Linked DNA regions of Homo sapiens: region 2 is linked to region 1. Evidence: fine-mapped expression QTL. A gene starts in region 1. The other region holds a variant in brackets. All regions are shown on one strand. Distances are between the middles of the regions. Region 1 holds the start of PLBD2 (phospholipase B domain containing 2). Region 2 overlaps PLBD2 (phospholipase B domain containing 2).

Region 1 (11,403 bases):
TTATTTGTTTCTCTTTGTGTTCATCTTTAGGGGTTTTCTCCATTCTATTGAGTTGAATGGATTTTTTTGTTTGTTTGTTTTCAGAGACAGGGTCTCACTATGTTGCCCAGGCTGGTCTTGAACTCCTGGGCTCAAGTGATCCTCTCACCTCAGACTCCCAAAGTGCTGAGATTACAGGCATGAGCCACTGTGCCCAGCCTCTTCATTCTCTTTTTTTTTTTTTTTTTTTTTTGAGATGGAGTCTCACTCTGTCACCTGGGCTGGAGTGCATTGGTGTGATCTTGGCTCACTGCAACTTCCGCCTTCTGGGTTCAAGTGATCCTCCTGCCTCAGCCTCCCGAGTAGCTGGGACTACAGGCGCCTGCCACGATGCCTGGCTAATTTTTGTATTTTTAGTAGAAATGGGGTTTCCTCATATTGGCCAGGCTGATCTTGAACTCCTGACCTTGTAATCCACCCGCCTCGGCCTCCCAAAGTGCTGTGATTACAGGCGTGAGCCACTGCACCCGGCCTCATTCTTTTTTATAGCTGCATAGTATTCCATTTCCCAGCTGTTGTGTGGTTTATTTAATGAAGCTTCTATGTATGGGCTTGAAAGTGTTTCCAACAGTTTAAAATTACAAACAATGCTGCAATAAATAACCTTATGGATAAATACTTAGAGGTGGGATTGCTGGGTCAGAGGTAGATGCCCTTGGTGTTTTGTTAGACATTACTCTTCCTGTCTTTTGCATACCCACTAGCAACGTGCATGTGCCTGTTTCTCCAGGCTCACCAACAGGGTATGTTGTCAAGCTTCTAAACTTTTTTTTTTTAATCTCATAGAAAGAAATGATATCTCAGTGTAGTTTATTTAAAGTTTTTTTTTTTGTTTTTTTTTTTGAGAGGGAGTCTTGCTCTGTCACCCAGGCTGGAGTGCAGTGGTGCGATCTCAGCTCACTGCAACCTCCGCCCCCGGGGTTCAAGCGATTCTCCTACCTCAGCCTCCCGAGTAGCTGGGATTACAGGCATGCTGTAATTTTTTTTTGTATTTTTAGTAGAGACGGGGTTTCACCATCTTGGCCAGGCTGGTCTTGAACTCCTGACCTCATGATCCACCCGCCTCGGCCTCCCAAAGTGCTGGGATTACAGGCGTGAGCCACTGTGTCCGGCCCTAAAGTTTTTGTTTTTGAAAACATGTACTCTTTATCTAGTTTCTCCCAGTGATAACAACTTATGTAACCAGAGTATAAATATCAAAATCAGGAAATTGACTTTGATATGGAACTTTTTTTTTAACTTTTAAAAATTTTTTGAGACAGGGTCTCACTCTGTTACCTAGGCTGGAGTGCAGTGATACAATCTCAGCTCACTGCAACCTCCGCCTCCCAGGTTCAAGCAATTCTCGTGCCTCAGCCTCCCGAGTAGCTGAGATTACAGGCGTGTGCCACCATGCCCAGATAAATTTTTTTTGGATTTTTAGTAGAGATGGGGTTTCACCATCTTGCTCAGGCTGCTCTTGAACTCCTGAGCTCAAGCGATCCTCCCACCATGGCCTCCCAAAGTGCAGGGATTACAGGCATGAGCCCCCGAACCCGGCCTGATATGGTACTTTAAATTACAAATCCCAGCACTTTGGGAGGCCATGGTGGGAGGATCGCTTGAGCCCAGGAGTTTGAGACCAGTCAAGCAACAAAGTAAGACTCCATCTCTTCAAAAACTCAAAAAAATTAACCAGGTGTGGTGGTGCATGCCTGTAGCCCAGCTACCTAGGAGACTTAGGTGAGAGAATCACTTGAGCCTGAAAGATTGAGGCTACAGTGAGCTATGATTGCACCACTGCATCCCAGCCTGGACGACAAAGTGAGACCCTGTCTCAAACCCAAGAAAACAAAAATCAAAAAACTAAATTACAGACCTTATTTCAGCAGTCTTTACATGCACTCTATTTTCACTGTATATTTCTTACTTCTTCTCCTTCTCCTTCTTCTGGACAGAGTCTCACTCTGTCGCCCAGGCTGGAATGCAGTGGCATGATCTCGGTTCACTGCAACCTCCACCTCCCAGGTTCAAGCGAATTTCCTGCCTCAGCCTCCCCAGCAGCTGGGACCACAGGCACATGCCACCACCCGGCTAATTATTTTGTATTTTTAGTAGAGATGGGGTTTCACAATGTTGGTCAGGCTGGTCTTGAACCCCTGACCTCACGTGATCTGCCTGCCTCGGCTTCCCAAAGTGCTGGGATTACAGACATGAGCCACTGCACCTGGCCTCTTCTTTTTTGAATGGTTAAGTATAGAGTTTGTTTTCACCCGAAGATTGAGGTTGGGCACTTAGGAGCATCGCTTCATGTTACCCTGAATGTACCATTCAGGGTATACGCTCTCTCACCATATATTTCTCTGAATGTTTATTTTCAGTGTAGCTTTAATTTGCATTTCTCCTATAGTGAATGAAGCAAGCATTTTTCATAAATATAATGGTCACTTCTACATCTTTGTTCATGAATTATTTGCTGATGCTTTTTGCCCATGTTTTCTGTCTGGTTTTCACATTTTCCTTCTCAAACCTTTTCTTTCTTTCTTTCTTTCTTTCTTTCTTTCTTTCTTTCTTTCTTTCTTCCTTCCTTCCTTCCTTCCTTCCTTCCTTCCTTCCTTTCTTCCTTCCCTTCCTTCCCTTTCCCTCCCTCCCTCCCTTCCTTCCTTCCTTTTCTCTCTCTTTCTCTCTCTCTCTCTCTCTTTCCTTTTTGACAACTTCTTGCTCTGTTGCCCAGGCTGTAGTGCAACTCACTGTAGCCTCGACTTCCTAGGCTCAAGCAATCCTCCCCCCTCGGCCTCCCAGTAGCTGGGACTGAGGCAGAAATTAAAATAATAATAATAATAAGTACTACATATATTCACTCCAAGAGAAGTAAGAGCTAAGGCCCAGAATGTGGCAAGGCAAGGGTTAAAAAAGAAGAAGAACAAGTTTTCCTCTGCTTAGCAGCTCACTTCAAGGACAGTTATAAGATAACGCTGTCCGAAAAGCCAAGGCCAGAGGACTGGGCTCCAGACCCCGCCCTCCACCCCACCGCCCGCCTCCAGAGCAAGGTTGAAGGAAAAAAAAGAGAGAAAGACAAATTATTTTATTGCTATTCCTTTCCTTGGTCTCTTAAGCATGACTATGTTTTACAAACCTCTCTATTTAGCCAGTTCTTGTTTTACTTTTGATGCAGCTACAAGGCCACCAGCTATGCAAGGCCACAAGTTATGCACTATATGATTAACTACTTTTGTTTTACCTTTCTAAGCTTGCTTATAAAAACCCCACAATATCTTTGTTCTAGGCTCAGCTTTTTGGATGTGAATCCACTGAGCCAGTGCGTACGTTGAAATAAACATCCTCCTGTTCTCTCATATTGGTCTCTCCGTTCCTCAGTTTCCCACAACAGGACTACAGGTGTGCACCACCAAGCTCAGCTAATTTTTATATTTTATAGAGACAGAGTCTTGCCAGGTTTCCTAGGCTGGTCTCAAACTCCTGGGCTCAAGCATTCCTCCCACCTTGGCCACCCAAAGTGCTGTGATTACAGGCATGAACCACTCACCTGGCCTTCCCTCTCAAATTTTAAGAGTTCCTGATATATTATATGATATATGTTGAGATATATATACATATATATATGTAATGTATATATATGATATATGTTGCAAATAGTTTCTCCTGGTCTGTCAGATGTCTTTTGACTTTGCTTATTGAGTTTTTTGACATGAAAAAGTTAAAAAATTTATACAGTCAAATGCATTAATCTTTTATTGCATCTAGGTTTTTTTTTTTTTTTTTTTCTTTTGAGACAAGGTCTCATTCTGGTTGCTCAGGCTGGAGTGCAGTGGTGCAATCTCGACTCTCTGCAGCCTCGACCTTCCGGGCTCAGGTGATTTTCCTACCTCAGTCTCCCGAGTAGCTGGGACTATAGGCGCGCCTCACTGCGTCCGGCTACTTTTTTGTATTTTTAGTAGAGACGGGGGTTTCACCATGTTGCCCAGGCTGGTCTTGAACTCCTGAACTCGCCCGCCCTGGCCTCCTGGAGTGTTGGGATTACAGGCGTGAGCCACCGCGCCCGACGGCATCTAGGTTTTGAGTAGTAGTTAGACAGCTTTTTCCCACACACATGTAAAAAGGGTATTTGAGGGACAATGGGAAAAGTTGGAATAAAGACTGCATTAGATAACTGTATTAAATAAATGGCAAATACCATTAAATAAATCTGGCCGGGCGCGGTGGCTCACCCCTGTAATCCCAGCACTTTGGGAGGCTGAGGCAGGCGGATCACCTGAGGTCAGGAGTTCAAGACCAGCCTGGCCAACATGGCGAAACCCCGTCTGTACTGAAATTACATAAATCAGCTGGGCGTGGTGGTGCGCGCCTGTAATCCCACCTACTCAGGAGGATGAGGCAGGAGAATCGCTTGAACCCGGGAGGCGGAGGTGGCAATGAGCCGAGATCGCGTCACTGCACTCCAGTCTGGGCGACATATGGAGGTTTTGTCTTGTCTCAAAAAAAAAAAAAAAAAAAAACTTGGGGAAGTGTGCTAAACCGGGTTTGCGTAGGTGGAAGGGGCGGCCGGGCTCTTTAAGGTGGGTCCCGCCCCGTAGGCCTCCCCTCGCGCCAGCCCCTCCCATCCCGGAAAGGCTCAGCCCAAGCCCGGCCCCGCCCGCCCTCGGCCCCGCCCATGGCAGAGCGCAGTCACGTGACCCGGGCTGCGGGGCGCAGCATTGTGCGGTCATGGTGGGCCAGATGTACTGCTACCCCGGCAGCCACCTGGCCCGGGCGCTGACGCGGGCGCTGGCGCTGGCCCTGGTGCTGGCCCTGCTGGTCGGGCCGTTCCTGAGCGGCCTGGCGGGGGCGATCCCAGCGCCGGGGGGCCGCTGGGCGCGCGATGGGCAGGTCCCTCCAGCCTCCCGCAGCCGCTCGGTGCTCCTGGACGTCTCGGCGGGCCAGCTGCTTATGGTGGACGGACGCCACCCTGACGCCGTGGCCTGGGCCAACCTCACCAACGCCATCCGCGAGACTGGGTAAGGGTTGGCTTATCCCCACGCGGGGCCATCGGGGGAGGGGGATGCGTGGGCGCCGGACCTCGCCTGTTCCCGGGACCGGCCTCTTGCCGGGTGGGAACGCCCGTTTCTCTGGGGGTCAGCTACTCCCGAGGCTGCAGCACCGCCCTGCGGGCCAAGTACCCTGTTTGGGAGCTGGCTACTGCGGCATCCCTCACCTCATGGGGCCAGTCCCTTGCCTTCAGCCAGTGGTGACAGTACTTCTGTCCCCAAGAAGCCAGTTCCCTACCACCGAGGCCGCAGTGCCTGCATCTGGATCAGGTCCATGGCTGGTGGGTAAATTCTATCCTCACGGGGACCTGCTCCCTTCCCTAGACTTTGCCTCCTCACCCCATGGAGGCCAGCCCCCTGTCCCCAGGCCTGAGGGGTGATGAGAACTCAGCAGGAGACTAATTCTTACCTGCTTGGCTGTGGCTTGCTCGTGGGTGCCAGCACCCTGCCTCCCTTCCAGTGCCAGGTCAGCAGGACTGAACCTGGGTTCCAGGCTAGTCCAAAAGCAGAGGGTCCCTAAAGTCACATAGACCCATTTAGTATCCTGCTAGGGCTCTGCTCCTCCCTTGTCTTCTGTGTCCTGGTCCAAGGGGAAGTCCTTGGCTGGATGCCGTGTTTGGCAGCCATGCTCACCATCTTTATTGCTGGAACCCAGGCTGTCATTCTGATGTGTGAGTCTCACCTAACTCCTCCGCCTGTCTGGGCTCCCGTTTCCCCATCTGTGGCCCAGATTTTGAGGATGTGCTCTAGTTGGGTGGTCATGTGCTGCAAGTTCTGTACAAGGGCTTGTGCCCATTCATTTATTCATTACCCTGATGGTTGGCCTTAGGGACACAGCTGAGCAGCTGTCTCTACTCAGTGGGAAACACAGACAGCGATAGAAGAGAAATCAGAGTCAGTGGGAGTGGGAAGGATCAGCTTCAAAGCCTTGTCAGCAGGGCCCAGACGCTGGATCAGGCTGTGCTGGGGGATCCTAGGGAACCCGGGGTGCATCCGTCATATCCTAGTGTCCAGATGATGCTAGGGAACCCTAGCACTAGGATGTGCCCAGGATGTGGTCTGTGCTCAGACCACACTGCCCCCTGCAGCAGAAAGGGCCTCCTCCCACTTTAGCCCCTATCCATTTTACTGGCATCCATTGGCTTCTGCAGGTGTTAGGGAGACACAGGATGCCGAGGACACCCCCATTCTGGTGGCACTTGGGGGGTACATCAAGTAGACGTGAGATTTGGGGGAGATATTTGCACAGACACAGGGGCACTGGTTGGGGTAAATCTGGGAAGGCTCCCAGAGAGAGGAGGCCACAGAGTGAGCTGGCATCTGTGGAGGGAACTGAAGCTTTGTGGCTGGCCTCGGGGGCTGCCGGGACTCTTGGATCTGGTGACCCGTTCTTTGCTGACTCACTCATGTTTTTGGCCCTGCATAGCAGAATCAAGAGGACATGACAGAACTGTTCAGGCGAGGAGGGGCAGGAGCGAGGCCCAGCATGGGGAGGGGGCTTTGGCCTCTGGAGGCCCCTCCTGGGCTGTGTTGCTCTTGACTATGGTAAACATGGAAGTGGAGAGAAGGCTTCCTTGATTGTGCTGGATGGAAAGTTCTTCCAGGCTCAGCCCCTCTGCTGTGTGACCTTGGGCAAATCCCTTCACCTCTCTGAGCATGTTCCCTCATATCAAGGTAGGACCAAAAGGGTCATGGAAATTCACTGGGGTCACAGAAAGCACTGTTTATTTATTTTTATTTGTATTTTATTTTTTGAGACACAGTTTCACTCCGTTGCCCAGCTGGAGTGCAGGGGCACGATATTGGCTCACTGCAACCTCCCCACCCTGGGTTCAAGCGATTCTCGTGTCTCAGCCTCCCAAGTAGCTGGAATTACAGGTGTGTGCCACCATGCCCGGCTAATTTTTGTATTATTAGTAGAGATGGGGTTTCACCATGTTGGCCAGGCTGGTCTCAAACTCCTGACTTCAGGTGATCTGCCCATCTTGGACTTTCTGGCTTGTTTTCGGCACCCTCTCTCATCCCCTCCTCTTACGCTCACATGCCCCTTTCCCTTTGAGTTTGCCAGCCCTTGAGGCTCTGATGCAGGGAAAACCATAAAGCGAGCCCCATTTTATAGGCAGGAAACTGAGGTCCTCAGAGACAGCTGCTTGAGGACTCAGGGTCAGATGAAAGAAAGCCATAGGGGGTGTCCTGGCTCCTGATCAGCAGAATCTCTGATCTGTGGGGGACTCTGTGTCTTATTTCGGAGGGTGGGGGCAGGGATTTGATGCCTCTGTTCACTCAGAATTAGGATCCTCCTCCTTCCTGGTGAAATCCCCAGATTTTGCCACTGGGGATCCTGGGATTATCAGGATAAATTCTCCCTACACCATAATCCTTCGTCTTTTTTATTTTTTAAAAAAGGTTTTTTTTTTTTTGTTTTTTTTTTTTTTTTGAGACAGGGTCTCCCTGTGTTATCCAGGCTCGAGTGCAGTGGTATGATCATGGCTCACTGCAGCCTTGAACTCCCAGGCTCAAGAAATCCTCCGACCTCGGCCTCCCAAGTAGCTGGGACTATAGATACGCACCCCCATGCCTGGCTAATTTTTAAATTCTTTTTTTTTGTAGAAACAGGGGTCTTGTCATGTTGCCCAGGCTGGTCTTGAACTCCTGGGCTCAAGTGATCCTCTCACCTTAGCATCCCCAAATGTTGGGATTACAGATGTGAGCCACTGTGCTCGGTACCTTCTTTCAGTTGTGCCATATCTTGACTTTGGGCCAACACCCCCACACAGCCTGGAAACATTTATGATTTGGTGCTTGGAGATCAGAGATGTCACTAGGAGCAGAGCCTGCCTCAGTCTAGCTCTGGCCTTGGTCCTGGGGAAGCTGTATCCTCCAACCTTACTTTGTCTTCCTTCCCTGATCTGATCCCACTGACCAGCACCTTATCGACGAGGTTGCTTAAAGTAAATCACCATCCCGTTGAGAGAGGAAGTGAATCAAAGTTAGAGGGAATTAACAAATTTAGTAAACGGGGAAGCATCCCAAATCCACCAACCAACAGGCAAAAACAGCCCAGTAAAATGGATAAATAAGGCCCAGCTGTTTCTTTGAACAATCACAGGAGATGAATCTATACCATCAAGAATGAGAAAGGAGGACAGGCGCTGTAGCTCATGCCTGTAATCCCAATGTTTTGGGAGACCGAGGCAGGAGGATGGCGAGGGGCCAGGATTTCGAGACCAGCTTGGGCAATGTGGTGAAACCCTGTCTCTGCAAAAAAAAAGTAAAAAATTAGCTGGGTGTGGTTGCGCATGCCTGTGGTCCCAGCTACTCGTTTGAGCCTGGGAAGTCGAGGCTGCAGTCAGCTGTGATTGTGCCACTGCACTCCAGCCTGGGCAACAGAGTGAGACCCTGTCTCAAATAAAAAAAAAAAAAGGCTGAGATAGGAGTGATAGACACAGTTATGGGGGGCATCCCACATAATGGAGAGCATCCAAGGCCATACTAGACTGCGGAAGTGGGGTGCTGATATTTGTGAGATATTTGTGGCCCCCTGCTCATATCAGTGGTCTGACTTTTTCCAATGTGGCCTCTTTCAAGAGGCACCTTGATTAGACTCTTGAGTCATCTTAGAGACATTAGCTGCCCCTGGCATGAAATTGCAATTTGGCCCATAGATTTTCCAGGAAAAAAAAAAAAAGATTGAGGAAACAGACCTACTGCTGCCAACTTTTAATTTTTGTCAAGCAAGTGCATTAAAAACAAAGGAGAGCAATATTTGTCAACCCCTGTCAGCGTTTATCTCATAAAAGATTGGCAATTTTAGAGCAAACAAGCAGAAAGGACATACTCTCTGAATAAGGAGTAATCTTCTTTTGATTTATTTTTTTTTTTTGAGATAGAGTCTGCTCTGTTACCCAGGCTGGAGTGCAGTGGCATGATCTTGGCTCATTGCAACCTCCGCCTCCTGGGTTCAAGTGATCTTCCTGCCTCAGCCTCCCTAGTAGCTGGGATTACAGGTGTGAGCCACTATACCCAGCTAATTTTTTTTTTTTTTTTGTAATTTTAATAGAGATGGGGTTTCACCATGTTGGCCAGGCTGGTCTTGAACTCCTGACGTCAGGTGATCTGCCCACCTCAGCCTCCCAAAGTGCTGGGATTACAGGTGTGAGCTATTGTGCCTGGCCGAAGAGTAGTCTTTAATAAGCACATCTAGTTATAGACACACTCTAAAGTGTTTTTCTGGCCGGGCGCTGTGGCTTGTGCCTGTAATGCCAGCACTTTGGGAGGCCGAGGCAGGAGGATTGCTTGAGCCCAGGAGTTTGAGACCAGCCTGGGCAACATGGTGAGACCCTATCTCTGCAAAAAATATAAAAAACTAGCTGGGCACGGTGGTGCGTGCCTGTAGTTCCAGCTACTCAGAAGCTGAGACGGGAGGACTGCTTGAGTCCAGGTGAGGCTACACTGAGCTGTGATCACGCCAGTGCACTCCAGCCTGGGTGACAGAGTGAGACCCTATCTCAAACAAAACAAAACAAAACAAATTTCTAGCAGTTTAGAAAGAGGGGATGGGATATGGGAAGTAAAAGCCTCCCCCTACCATTCTTCCTAGATATAAACATTTTTAGCTTTTTTTTTTTTTTTTTTTGAGGTGGAGTCTCGCCCTGTTGCCCAGGCTGGAGTCAGTGGCGCGATTTCGGGTCGCTGCAAGCTCCGCCTCCCGGGTTCACGCCATTCTCCTGCCTCAGCCTCCCGAGTAGCTGGGACTACAGGTGCCCGCCCCCACGCCCGGCTAATTTTTTGTATTTTTAGTAGAGACGGGGTTTCACCATGTTAGCCAAGATGGTCTCGATCTCCTGACCTCATGATCCACCCGCCTCAGCCTCCCAGAGTGTTGGGATTACAGGCGTGAGCCACTGCACCCGGACTTTTAGCTCTTTCTTCCAGAATTTTCTATGCATAAAGAGGCCTAAACCTTCTTGCATACATATAAATGTAGAGGCATATGTGGTGTGTGATGCATTTACACAGGGGCTTAGTTCGTGCCTACCATTTGGACTTCTCGACTTTTTTTTGAACTTCATCTCTGACCTCTTTGCTCATCAGCACATGCAGTCCGCTATGGCATGTGTGATTATTGTATCAGGCCCCTAATGATGGGTGTTTCGGGAAGGCCCGTCTTTTCTGGCTTTGAAGAGAAGTCCTGCTGTGAAGAAGGGCCTTTATGCCCATCTCTGCAGGGCTGTATGAGCATCCGGCCAGGGAATGGGTTCCTAACCACTGCCCGTCTCCGGGGCCTCAGTGCCGAGGCCTTGGCTGAGCCCACCCTTGCTAGAAGGGGTAGCTCTCACCAGGTGTGCCCTGGAGGAGGCCACTGGCCGCTCAGTTACTACTGGGGCTCGCGGCTGCACAGCTTTTTTGGTTTTACGCAGTTTGTCCGAGGTCTCCTTTGATCCACTGCCAGCTTTTATCACGAGGGGATCTGCATATTGGGCCCTGTTATAATCTTCCTCCCATCATCACACTCGCCGGGTCTCCTCAAACTCCTACCCCCTCAGATTCTTTTTTTTTTTTTAATGAGACAGCATCTTGCTCTATTGTCTGGACTGGAGTACAGTGGTGTGATCATAGCTCACTGCAGCCTGGGCTCAAGCGATCCTCCCATCTTAGCCCCAGCCTCCTGTGACTATAGGCAAGCACCACCACACCTGGTTAATTTATTTTGTATTTTTTGTAGAGAGGGGAGTCTCGCTTTATTGTCCAGGCTGGTCTCTTACTCCTGGTCTCAAGTGATCCTCCCACCTCAGCCTCCCAAAGCACTGGGGTTACAGGCATGAGCCACTGCGCCATCTCCTCTCAGATTCTTGATGAGACAAATACTTAGTGAGTGCATAATGTGTGTTCTCTCCTGGCACATGCCACAGCAGTCCTCTGAAGGGGGAGTCACTCTGCCCATTTTACAGATGAGAAAACCGAGGCCCCGAGAGGTAAAGCAGTTTGCCCAAAGGTACACAACCAGTAAGGGATCTACCCAGGGATTCAGACCAAGTCGGAGGGACCCACAAGCCCAAACTCTTTGTCTTCCATTCTCCTTGAAATTTAAAAATCTAATTTTTTCCCCTTGTTTTTTCCTCTGTCCTTATCTGTGATGCTATGTGAATAATTAGCCCGAAGTTCATGGCTGTCATCTGCATTTGATAAGAACTATACCTCCTTGCCCCCAACACTCCCCCACAAACCTGAGTTGAGTTAGAGGCGCAGAGCATTCACTCAAGAATGTTAGTCTCAGCTCTGCTGCTCACCTGCTGTGTGACCTTGGGCAAATCACTTCATCTAACTGTATTATGTGGGA
Region 2 (11,403 bases), 30 kb after region 1:
ATGGAGAAACCCTGCCTCTACTAAAAATACAAAAGTTAGCCAGGCGTGGGGGCACGTGCCTGTAATCCTAGTTACTAGGGAGGCTGAAGCACGAAAATTGCTTGAACTTGGGAGGCGGAGGTTGTAGTGGGCTGAGGTTACACCACTGCACTCCAGCCTGGGCAAGAGTGAGACTCTATCTCAAAAAAAAAAAAAAAAAAAAAAAATTTTTGGAGCCATGACTGATGAAGTACTGCCACTTGGTGGCAGCATGCCTAGGCTGTGCAGCAGCCCCCTTGACCTTCCCACAGGTGACACTGGAGACCACCATTGGCAACAAGAACCCAGCCCTGTGGAAGTATGTGCGGCCCAGGGGCTGTGTGCTGGAGTGGGTACGCAACATCGTGGCCAACCGCCTGGCCTCGGATGGGGCCACCTGGGCAGACATCTTCAAGAGGTTCAACAGCGGCACGTGAGTGGGCTTCTGGCCCTGTGGCTTCCCCTGCACCAAGAGATAGACCAACCTCCCCTTTAACACTCACACTCCTGGGGACCAGATGTGGCATCCGGGCCACACACCCCACGCCCTCCTTTGTTTCATACATGGGGAGACTGAGGCTAGGGAAGGAAAGGATTTGCCCCTCCCCTGCAGGCTCCTCAGCCTAGGAAGGGGTGCCTTGGTGGCAGTACAGGAAGAGCACTTGGAACCTGAAGACTCTCAAGGGGACAGTGGGGAGGGCTGTTTGAGGAGGTGGACGTGGGTGGGTGGCAGGGCCTGTGAGCCAGAGACACTGGAACTGGGCAGTGCAGATCTTACAGCATCCGGCAGAGGAGCTGACCTAGGGAGCCACAGAATATTCTGGAACAGTCAAGCAGCATGACGAGAGAGGGGTTTGTGGATACCTGGTCATGCTGCAGCGTCAGGGTGTCAGTTGAATGGCTGGACAACCCCAGGCCCACTTCCTGTAATTCCTAGCTGAGTGGGACACTGCAGGGTGGGGAAAGCTGGGGAGGTGGCTCCAGGCTCTGTTCAGTCCTCCCTTCCCCTGCCCGGCAGGTATAACAACCAGTGGATGATCGTGGACTACAAGGCGTTCATCCCGGGTGGGCCCAGCCCCGGGAGCCGGGTGCTTACCATCCTGGAGCAGATCCCGTGCGTACCCTGGGAGGGAGGGGTGGGGGCTCGGGGCAGAGGGGACTGCCAGGGTGAAGGCCCAGAGCCGTGCTGGCGCTGTGCAGGAAGTGAACGATCTCAGGAGGGTGTGGCTGGAAGAGAAGGTGTCCCTGGTGGGGGCTGAAGTTCAGGACTTAATCCATCCTCCAGGCAATGGGGAGCCATCGGGGCTCCCCGAGCAGGGCAGTGCCCACAGGAGCCCCTTTTCTGATCACCTCCACCCCATCTCTCTTCTCGGTCTCAGCGGCATGGTGGTGGTGGCTGACAAGACCTCGGAGCTCTACCAGAAGACCTACTGGGCCAGCTACAACATACCGTGCGTGCCTTCTCACTCCGCTCCCCGTCACCCTCCAGGGCATCCACCTCACTCCTTGCCCAGCTCCTTCCTAGGCAATGTTTTTAAACCCACAGAACAAAGAATCCCAGCCTACCCCCTTTTCTGGCCAGGAGAGCCCAGACAGTTTGGCAGTGTAGTTGCATGGCTTAAGTCAGCATCCATGTGACCTCTGGTTCTAACACCCAGAGCAGGGTGGTGTGGGGTGGCCAGGCTCAGGGACTGGCCCCTGCCAGGGTCTCTGACTGGATCTGCCTTACTGGGCTGTACAGCTGTCACCTCCTGAGGCTCACTTACTTTACCTGCATTTTCTCATTTGACTCTTAAAATTGCCACATGTGGTCACTAGAGTTCCTGTTCCCATCTCACAGATGATGAAACTGAGGCCCTGAGAAAGTACCTCACTTTCCCAAGCTTCCCCTGTTGGCGAATGGTGAAGGCAGGATTTGTTTTTTGTTTTTTGTTTTGAGACAGAATCTTGCCCTGTCACCCAGGCTGGAGTGCAATGGTGCAATCTCAGCTCACTGCAGCCTCCGCCTCCTGAGCTCAAGTGATTCTCCTGCCTCAGCCTCCTGAGTAGCTGGGATTACAGGCGCCAGCCACCATCCTTGGCTAATTTTTCTATTTTCAGTAGAGACAGGGTTTCACCATGTTGGCCAGTCTAATCTCAAACTCCTGACCTCAAGTGATCCGCCTGCCTTGGCTTCCCAAAGTGCTGGGATTATAGGCATAAGTCACCACACCCGGACTGAAGGCAGGATTTGATGCCATGCCTTTTGGGCCCCAGAGCCCAAGCTTGGCCACCCCACCAAGCCACCCCCCAGCACAAATGGAAGACATTATTGTTATCCCGAATGTCATAGTTGGTTTTGTTGTTGTTGTTGTTGTTTGTTTGTTTGTTTTTAGAGACAGAGTCTCGCTCTGTCACCCAGGCTGGAGTGCAATGGTGCGATCTCAGCTTGCTGCAACCTCTGCTTCCCGGGTTCAAGCGATTCTTGTGCCTCAGCCTCCCAAGTAGCTGGGATTACAGGCACGTGCCACCACGCCGGCTAATTTTTTTTTTTTTTTTTGAGACGGAGTCTCGCTGTGTCGCCCAGGCTGGAGTGCAATGGTGCGATCTCAGCTTGCTGCAACCTCTGCTTCCCGGGTTCAAGTGATTCTTGTGCCTCAGCCTCCCAAGTAGCTGGGATTACAGGCACGTGCCACCACGCCGGCTAATTTTTTTTTTTTTTTTTTGAGACGGAGTCTCGCTGTGTCGCCCAGGTTGGAGTGCAATGGCTCGATCTCAGCTCACTGAAACCTCCACCTTCCAGGTTCAAGTGAGTACATGCCTCAGCCTCCCGAGTAGCTGGGATTACAGGCACACACCACCGTGCCTGGCTAATTTTTGTATTTTTAGTGGAGACAGGGTTTCACCATGTTGGCCAGGCTAGTCTCAAACTCCTGAGCTCAGGTGATCTGCCCGCCTCGGCCTCCCAAAGTATTGGGATTACAGGTGTGAGCCACTGCACCCAGCCTGAATGTCGTAGTTGTAAGTAATAATGTCCTGGTGTGACTGCCCCTCCCCTCCCTGGCCACAGCCTTGGCTGAGTGAGGCCAGTGGGGGTCATGGGTGACCATCCTTGTCCCCGGCAGGTCCTTCGAGACTGTGTTCAATGCCAGTGGGCTGCAGGCCCTAGTGGCCCAGTATGGGGACTGGTTTTCTTATGACGGGAGCCCCCGGGCCCAGATCTTCCGGCGGAACCAGTCACTGGTACAAGACATGGACTCCATGGTCAGGCTGATGAGGTAGGTGCCAGTTGGGTGGTGGGTTGGGGAGAGGGAGGCCGCAGGAACACAGAACTTCCTGTGCGCTTTTTGTACCAACTCATTCAAACTTTGCTGCCAGCCCCAGAGGGCCAGCAGGGGGTGGTCAGATGTTGGACACCAGTGCAGCAGCTCGGTGGCCGCTCTCCACTTGGGCCCTGTCACTGTCCTCATAGCTAAGGGGAGGATGCTAGACATCTGTTGAGTGACCTGTACTGCTAGGCACTATGCTTGGTACCAGGAGCAACAGGTAGAAAACCTGTGCCCCACTGTCCTGTCTCTTGGGCGGTGCAGAAATCCATCAAGTTCTTGCACTGGTGTCAATGTGTAAAGATGGCTGTGTTCCAAGAGAGGCTATCCAGGAACAAACGGGTGCCTCACCTGGCTGGGGTGGTGGCATGGAGGCCTTCCCTGAGGATGAGTGCCTGAGCAGAGAGCTGAATAATGAAGGCAGAGTGACTTAGGTGAAGGGGTCCGGGCCCCAGGCAGAGGAACTGTCGGGGGTAGTGTGCAGTGGGAGGGGCTCATCAAGTTGAAGGCTGGCAGCTGTTAACGGGGCTGCCTGTGAGGATTTTGGCCCCCGTCTTAGCCTCTCCTTCCTGGGATGACTGATGTTCCCTCCTTTTCCCCATCCAGGTACAATGACTTCCTCCATGACCCTCTGTCACTGTGCAAAGCCTGCAACCCCCAGCCCAATGGGGAGAATGCTATCTCCGCCCGCTCCGACCTCAACCCGGCCAATGGCTCCTACCCCTTCCAGGCCCTGCGTCAGCGCTCCCATGGGGGTATCGATGTGAAGGTGCTGCCTCCTCCCTAGGGCCTGAGCTGTGGGTGGGGGAAGTCACCATCACCAGCTTTGGGGAAGGGACAGGTTGGGGCAAAGCTGATGGCGGGGCAGGAATCACAGTCGGAATTGGGCTGTGGTTGGGGTCACAGTAAAGGTGACAGTATGGGCTGGGCACGGTGGCTCATGCCTGTAATCCCAGCACTTTGGGAGCCCAAGGTGGGCAGATCACTTGAGGTCAGGAGTTTGAGACCAGCCTGGCCAACATGGTGAAAACCCGTCTCTACTAATAATACAAAAATTAGCTAGGCGTGGTGGCGGGCGTCTGTAATCCCAGCTACTCAGGAGGCTGAGGCATGAGAATTGCTTGAACCCGGGAGGCAGAGGTTGCAGTGAGCCAAGATCACGTCACTGCACTCCAACCTGGGTGACAGAGCAGAGACTCAAAAAAAAAAAAAGTGACAGTTCAGAATTGGGCTCTGGGGTCAAGGTCAGGGTGGGAGGCTGGGTGCCTGGATTGGGGCAGGCCAGGACCCCTGCTCAGCTGCGGCTCTGCCCTGTCCCCAGGTGACCAGCATGTCACTGGCCAGGATCCTGAGCCTGCTGGCGGCCAGCGGTCCCACGTGGGACCAGGTGCCCCCGTTCCAGTGGAGCACCTCGCCCTTCAGCGGCCTGCTGCACATGGGCCAGCCAGACCTCTGGAAGTTCGCGCCTGTCAAGGTTTCATGGGACTGAAGTTCTGTCC[C/G]TGCTCTGCTGCTTTCGCCCCTGCTGACCCTCGTCAGGGTCACCCCCGTCCCAAGGCCACCGGACTTCTAACTCCAGCCCCTCCTGGGGGCTTCGTTCTCTGATCTGGGGTCTGAGTCATCTCCTCCTAGAGTGGGTCACGAACCTGATGGGGCTCAGAACTGACCCCCTCTCTCCCCCGAGGTGGGTGGGCACCGTGGCGTCTCTTCTGCCCTGCCCTAAATCTCCCACTCTCTGTTTCTGTCTGTTTCCTACTGCTGCTCTCTCAACCTCATTCCCACCTCTGGGGCCCCTTCCTCGTGCTTCTCCTTCCTGAGGGTTTGGGAAGGTCCTGGGGCAGACTCTGGGGCTCCCATGGGGTGGAAGGAGCCTGTTCCAGCACCCTTCTCCCAGCTGCATTCCCACGGGTGGCCCTGGAGCTGGTGAGCTTTGTCTGGGCGTTGTCTTCGGCTGGCATTGCTCCTCCCAGCTCTGGCCCCTCTGCTCCCTCAGGAAGCAGTCCCCTCGTCTCCCTTTCTGGGCAGCTTCCTTGAGGACAGAAACTTGAAAACAAACACAAACCAAAGTTTCTGGCCATCTGTGGCTGGAGGGTTCTGAATGTCCTCTCTCCATGTCAGGCAGAGGGTCAGCCCCCATGCTTCTGCCTCAGGCCCCACCCCACCCCACCCCAGGCCTGCCCCTCACCTCAGGGCCATACCCACAGCGCCCTGATGGAGGAACCAGACCGCAGGCTGTGCCACCATTAAACAAGAGCGGCTGTGGCCCCATGCTGTGCTTCTTGGGGTGGCAGGGAAGGTGGGGTCAGCGCTTTTTCTCCTCTCAGGTTTGGGTTCTGCGCCATCCCCCATGCAGCCTCCTGTGCAGCCCTCTGTCTGTCCTTCTGTCCATTCATTCATCTGCCAACATACTCACCCATCATCCATCTGCACAGCCTTCCACCCACCCATCCGTCTTCCATCATCCATCCATCCATCTACCTATCCATTTATCATCCATCCACTCACCCATCCAACCACCCATCCAACCATTCAGCCATCTCCATCTGTCCATTTTCTTTCTTCTTCTTTTTTTTTTGTTTTTGTTTTTTCTGAGTGGGAGTTTCACTCTATTGCCCAGGCTGGAGTGCAATGGCATAATCTCTGCTCACTGCAACCTCTGCTTCCTGGGTTCAAGCGATTCTCCTGCCTTAGCTTCCCAAGTAGCTGGGGTTACAGGCATGAGCCACCATGCCTGGCTAATTTTGTATTTTTAGTAGAGACAGGGTTTCACCATGTTGGCCAGGCTGGTCTCGAACTCCTGGCCTCAAGTGATCCGCCCGTCTTGGCCTCCCAAAGTGCTTGGATTACAGATGTGAGCCCCCGCACCTGGCCTCATTTGTCCATTTTCCATCCACTTACCCACCCACCCATTTACTCATCCAGCCATTGACTCATCCATCCACCTATGAGATCAGACAGGGAGGGATCCTTTTTTGTATTGGTCTGTATACCACAGCATGGCTTACGAAGTTCTTATCTATCTATCACCCATCCACCCACCCATTTATCTACCCACCCATTCATCCACCCACCCATCCAACTACCTATCCATTCATCCATCCACCCATCTGCCAACGCATCCATCCATCCACCCACCCAATCATCTACCCACTCACCTATCCACCCATCCACCTACCTATTTGTCACCCATCCACCCATCCATCCATCCAATCACCCATCCAACCATCAATCCAACCATTTTCATCTGTTCATTTTCCATCCATCTACCCGTCCACCCATTCACTCCTCCATCCACCTACCTATCCATTTATCACCCATTTACCCATCCATCCATCCATCCTTCCAACCATTTATCCACCCATCCAAACATTTCCATCTGTTTTTCCATCCATCTACCCATCCACCCATTCACTCATCCATCCACCTTCCTATCCATTTATCATCCATCTACCCACTCACCCATCCATCCAACCTTCCAACCATTTATCCACCCATCCAACTATTTCCATCTGTTCATTTTCCACCCATTTACCCATCTACTAATTCACTCATCCATCCACCTACCTATCCATTTATCATCCATCTACCCACTCACCCATCCATCCATCCTTCCAACCATTTATCCACCCATCCAACCATTTCCATCTGTTCATTTCCATCCATCTACCCATCTACCCATTCACTCATCCGTCCACCTATCCATTTATCACCCATCTACCCATCCATCCACCCACTCATCCATCCATTCATCCATCCACCCACCCACCCGTCCATCCACCTACCTATTCATTTATCACCCATCCATCCACACACGGGTCTGTGCAGATTCATTAATATCCACCCATGCATCCATATTTATCTATTTTCTATCCATCAGCCATCCATTCATTCATATCCATCCATCCATCTATCCATCCAGATGTTTATTGAGCACCTGTGTTCTGGGTCCTATTTGGGAGCCTTGTTAACCACCAAGACCTTCCTAAGCCATATTGTGGTATACAGACAGATACAAAAAAAAAGGCTCTCTCCCTGTCTGATCTCATGCAGCCTGCCTTGGAGACAAGACTCTCCCAGTGCTGTGTGCTTGGAGAGAGGAAAGCACACAGCCCTGGAGTCAGAGACCTGGGTTTCAATTCTGTCTCCACCTCTTATTAGCTAGCTATGGACTCCTCTCTGAGCCTCGATTACCTCATCTGTGAAATGGGGTAATGGTGTGAGCAGCGTTTCCCTGGGGGATGTGATGCAGCCCACTTGGGGCCTCATGCACTCAGCATCTCTTTATTAGCAAACACTTATTGAACCCCTAGTACATGCCAGGCACTGTTATGAGGTCCCGGGGATACTTTATAACAAAAGGGACAGAAGCATTCCTGCTCTTGTGAAGTTTACATTGACTAGATAGTAAACAAAATAAATGAAATATGCAGTGTGTCAGTGCTGGTAAACCCGTGGAGAAAATAAAGCAAGGTTGGGGTCTGGGGTTGGGAATTGACTTGTGGTTTTATCTTATTTTCCTTTTTATTTATTTATTTATTTTTTGAGACGGAGTCTCACTCTGTCGCCAGACTGGAGTGTAATGGCACAATCCCGGCTCACTGCAACCTCTGCCTCCTGGGTTCAAGTTATTTTTCCTTTTTGTAGAGACAGAGTCTCACTGTGCCAACCAGCCTGGTCTTGAACTCCTGGGCTCAAGCGATCCTCCCACAGGCGTGAGCCACTGCGCCCAGCCCTGAGTGACTCTTAAACTTCAGTTTGAACTTGGGGTCATCCAGAAAGTACCCTGAGGGTGGGGTTCCCTCCATGCTCTGGAGCCAGCCCCAGTAATTCCTCTTTGATCTATGATACGGGCTTCAGCATATGCTTTTGTTGGAAGAGAGGGCTCCATGTTTGAGGAGGGTTTGCATGACATTGACTTCAAGTCCACCCACCCTTTCCCTCTCCCAGAGATGGGTGTCCAGTGTCAGCTCACACACGCCCAGGGGAGGGGGCCTCACTTCTTTGCTTCCATTGGGTCTGTGATGAAATAATTCTGACTTAGTAGGAAGGACTTCATATCAGAATGAAGTTGGCCTCCCCAGCTGCTTCTGCCTTCAGCGGAGGCAGCCTTTGTCCCACCCCAAGTCCCTCTTGTTTAGCCACCTGCTTCCTGTGGTACAGGGATGCCCCTGTCCTGGCATGCAAGACTAGCTGGAGTCAGGCTCCTGGCCTCACTCTGGGGCCCCAGTTGAGAGCTGGGGCTGAGAGCAGACTTGGGGTGGAAGGAAAGCAGGAAAGGAGACAGCTGATGATGGGAAAATGCACAGGATCTTTGTTTCATAAATATATTTTATTTTTCAATGAAAAAGTTTGCACATTAGAAAAATTAGTAAGGGTCAGGGGTGGGCTTCCTGGGAGGATGGCTGAGATGGTTCCTCAACCCTGGTTGGTGGCCCTGTTGACCTTCACTGGGAACAAGTTCAGGGGCGAGGTCACAGCTTTGAGGAATTCCTCACTGCTGTGATTCAGGTCTCTCCTGTCCACCCTGCTCTGGGTACCTGGTGTGTTACTTGTGGGCACTTGTCACGCCAGCAAGTTGGCTAAGGATGGGCACAGAGCAGTCACACAGATACCAAAAAGGTCCAATTCATAGCCTCGCTGGCTGCCGACCTTTGGCCTCTGCATAGTGGGCTCCTGATAACAAGAAGTTAACCTGCACCCAGGCCACAGGTGCTCAGCCAAACATACGACGAGGCGCTGGATAAAACTCCAGCCCCTCCAGGGGTCTCTTGGGCTAGGAGAGCACAGATCGGTAAGGGGTCCGTCCTCACTTGGGCAACCTATTTGTCATGCCCAGCTGTTCCTTGAGCGCCCGCAGCTGGGCCAGGCTGATGTTGCTGCCCCCGCAGACGATGACCACGAGGGATGGCAGCGGGGTTCGGAGATTCCCCTCCAGTTGGAGCTTCTGGATCACGTGGCTATAGACAGCGGCCAGGGCTGCCCCGCAGGCGGGCTCCACCAGGATCTTCTCATCATCTGCCAGAGAAGGGGCGTGACAGGGGCGTGGCCTGAGTTTCCCAGGGTGCACAGGAGCTGACAGGCCATTGGCAGGACCTGGGAATACTGAGCCAATCAGCTCTCAGCCCTGGCTGCAGCCGCAGGTCCTGAACCAAACGTCCCGTCATCGGCCTGAATTGGCCCTTCCAAGCCTGAGCCAGGGCCTGGGTTTCATCATGAGTGCTAACACTGATAGAATGAGTGTGGTTGCGTGAGCACTGTGTTGAGAAGGATTCTGAGGCATCATCTGAGCAAGAGTTCCATGGTTGATTAGCCAAGTGTGCAGCAGGTACAGAAGCATAAATGGTACTATTTTTTTCTCTCTTTTTTGCCATCCCTGCCCTAGACGGAACCCAGAAAGAGTCCAGCCTAGTTACAGACTCACCTCTGAATGAATCAAACTCTGAGCCCCATGTTTTCCTTTTTTTACCCTGGCTGCCAGGAAACTCAGAAGCAACATTTTAAATATTCACTTATTGTTTTCTGCTGCTATGGTTATCAGGCTTACTTTTCTATTTACTTTTCCATTATGTGTGGCTTTTGCTTTTCTATTTCTACACGGCATTGTATTATCTTCTATTAATGGAAAATTCTAGGCAGAGGTGGAAGACAGAACTGTGAAGGAAACTTGGGGTGAGTGGGATCCCCAGTGGCATACCAAGTGGACAGCCACTTAGCGCCTGAGTCAGCAGGTCAGGTCATGGGAGGACCTGGCACATACCCACGAACTTCTCAATGGCGGCCACAGCCTCCTGGTCCGAGATAACTTCAGAGAAAATGGGGTGTTCCTGAAACAGCTTCAGGGCCTGAGCCCCCACAGTCTTCACGCCCAGGGCCTTGGCAACACTGAGAGAAGTGGGAACCCAGAAGAGGATGGGAGTGGGGGAAACAGGAGAGAGATGGGGGCAGGGAGGGAGAGAAGGAGATGGATGTGAGACAGAGAAGGCAATGCATCTGGGGGCAGGGGGACAGGTATCACCTCTGCAGCTGTAAAACCCTGAAAAGCCTCAGGGATCCCCAAACCAAGTGGGGTCTTCTAATAAGGTGCAGAGTGTTTGAATTGACATCATATAGTATATTCTTTAGTATCATTTTTTTAATTTTTTTGAGACTGAGTGTCACTATGTTGCCCAGGCGGGTTTTTGTTTTGTTTGTTTTTTTGTTGTTTTTTTGTTTTTTTTTTTTTTTAGACGGAGTCTTGCTCTGTTGCCCAGGCTGGAGTGCAGTGGTGCGATCTCAGCTCACTGCAATCTCTGCCTCCCGGGTTCAAGCAATTCTCCAGCCTCAGCCTACCGAGTAGCTGGGACTACAGGTGCCCACCACCACACCCGGCTAATTTTTGTATTTTTAGTAGAGATGGGGTTTCACTATGTTGACCAGGCTGGCCTCGAATTCCTGACCTTAGGTGATCCACCCCCCTCGGCCTTCCAAAGTGCTGGGATTACAGGCATGAGCCACCATGCCCGACCCCAGGCTGGTCTTGAACTCCTGGGCTCAAGTGATCCTCCTGCCTCGGCACAGCGTCATATTCTGATCAACACTAAGTCAGGAGCAAATGCCTAAGAGGACCCTTGTTGTTCCCTGCTAGGACTCCCTGCTTTTGCTCCGGGTTACAACCGCTACCTGGTTAACCCTCATGAAGCTTAGCACCACTCTGCCTGCCCACATCCTGCTGTGTCCTTCAAGGCTCAGGATTAAGGCCACCTCCTCCAAGGAGTCCTCCTGGGAGAGTACTGAGTCCCACGGCCCTATGTGGAATTCTCAAATAGTCCTCCCTGCTAGTAACAAGCGCCCTGAGTACTTCTTGAGAAAGTGTTAGGTGCCAAGCACTTCACAAGCATTATTGAATTCACACAAGAATTCTGCTGTTGTTAATTGGTTTGATTTTGGAAAGGGGAAACTGAGGCAGAGAGTGTACAGTCACTTGCCCAAGGTCACACACCTAGGGAGTGCTGGAGCTGGGGCTGCAAGCAGGATCTGTATAACTTCAAGACCTGCACTGGTAACCAATGTGTTGACGCTGTCCCCAGCTTCCTGGGGTGACCAC

The links.
Region 2: its variant is fine-mapped to the expression of PLBD2 in whole blood (TOPMed, PIP above 0.99). The same link has a PIP of 0.9 or more in aorta and lung.

Annotation. Positions count from the first base shown.
Region 1 is chr12:113,353,858-113,365,260 of GRCh38, forward strand. It overlaps PLBD2 (phospholipase B domain containing 2), which reads left to right and starts at 4,730. Exons shown (of 12, transcript NM_173542.4): 1 at 4,730-5,033. The coding sequence starts at 4,744. LOC105369989 (a long non-coding RNA gene) reads right to left here and starts at 5,653. Exons shown (of 3, transcript XR_945346.3): 1 at 5,473-5,653. RefSeq lists silencers at 4,544-5,043, 5,094-5,153 and enhancers at 5,489-5,988, 9,854-10,354.
Region 2 is chr12:113,383,815-113,395,217 of GRCh38, forward strand. It overlaps PLBD2 (phospholipase B domain containing 2), which reads left to right. Exons shown (of 12, transcript NM_173542.4): 7 at 291-451; 8 at 1,037-1,132; 9 at 1,398-1,469; 10 at 3,123-3,275; 11 at 3,930-4,092; 12 at 4,645-7,815. The coding sequence ends at 4,812. It overlaps SDS (serine dehydratase), which reads right to left. Exons shown (of 8, transcript NM_006843.3): 7 at 10,078-10,202; 8 at 8,631-9,335. The coding sequence ends at 9,127. Among named protein-coding and RNA genes, the nearest start is that of SDS, 14 kb to the right of the region's middle. RefSeq lists an enhancer at 9,400-9,599. The variant C/G (reference allele first, on the strand shown) is at 4,823.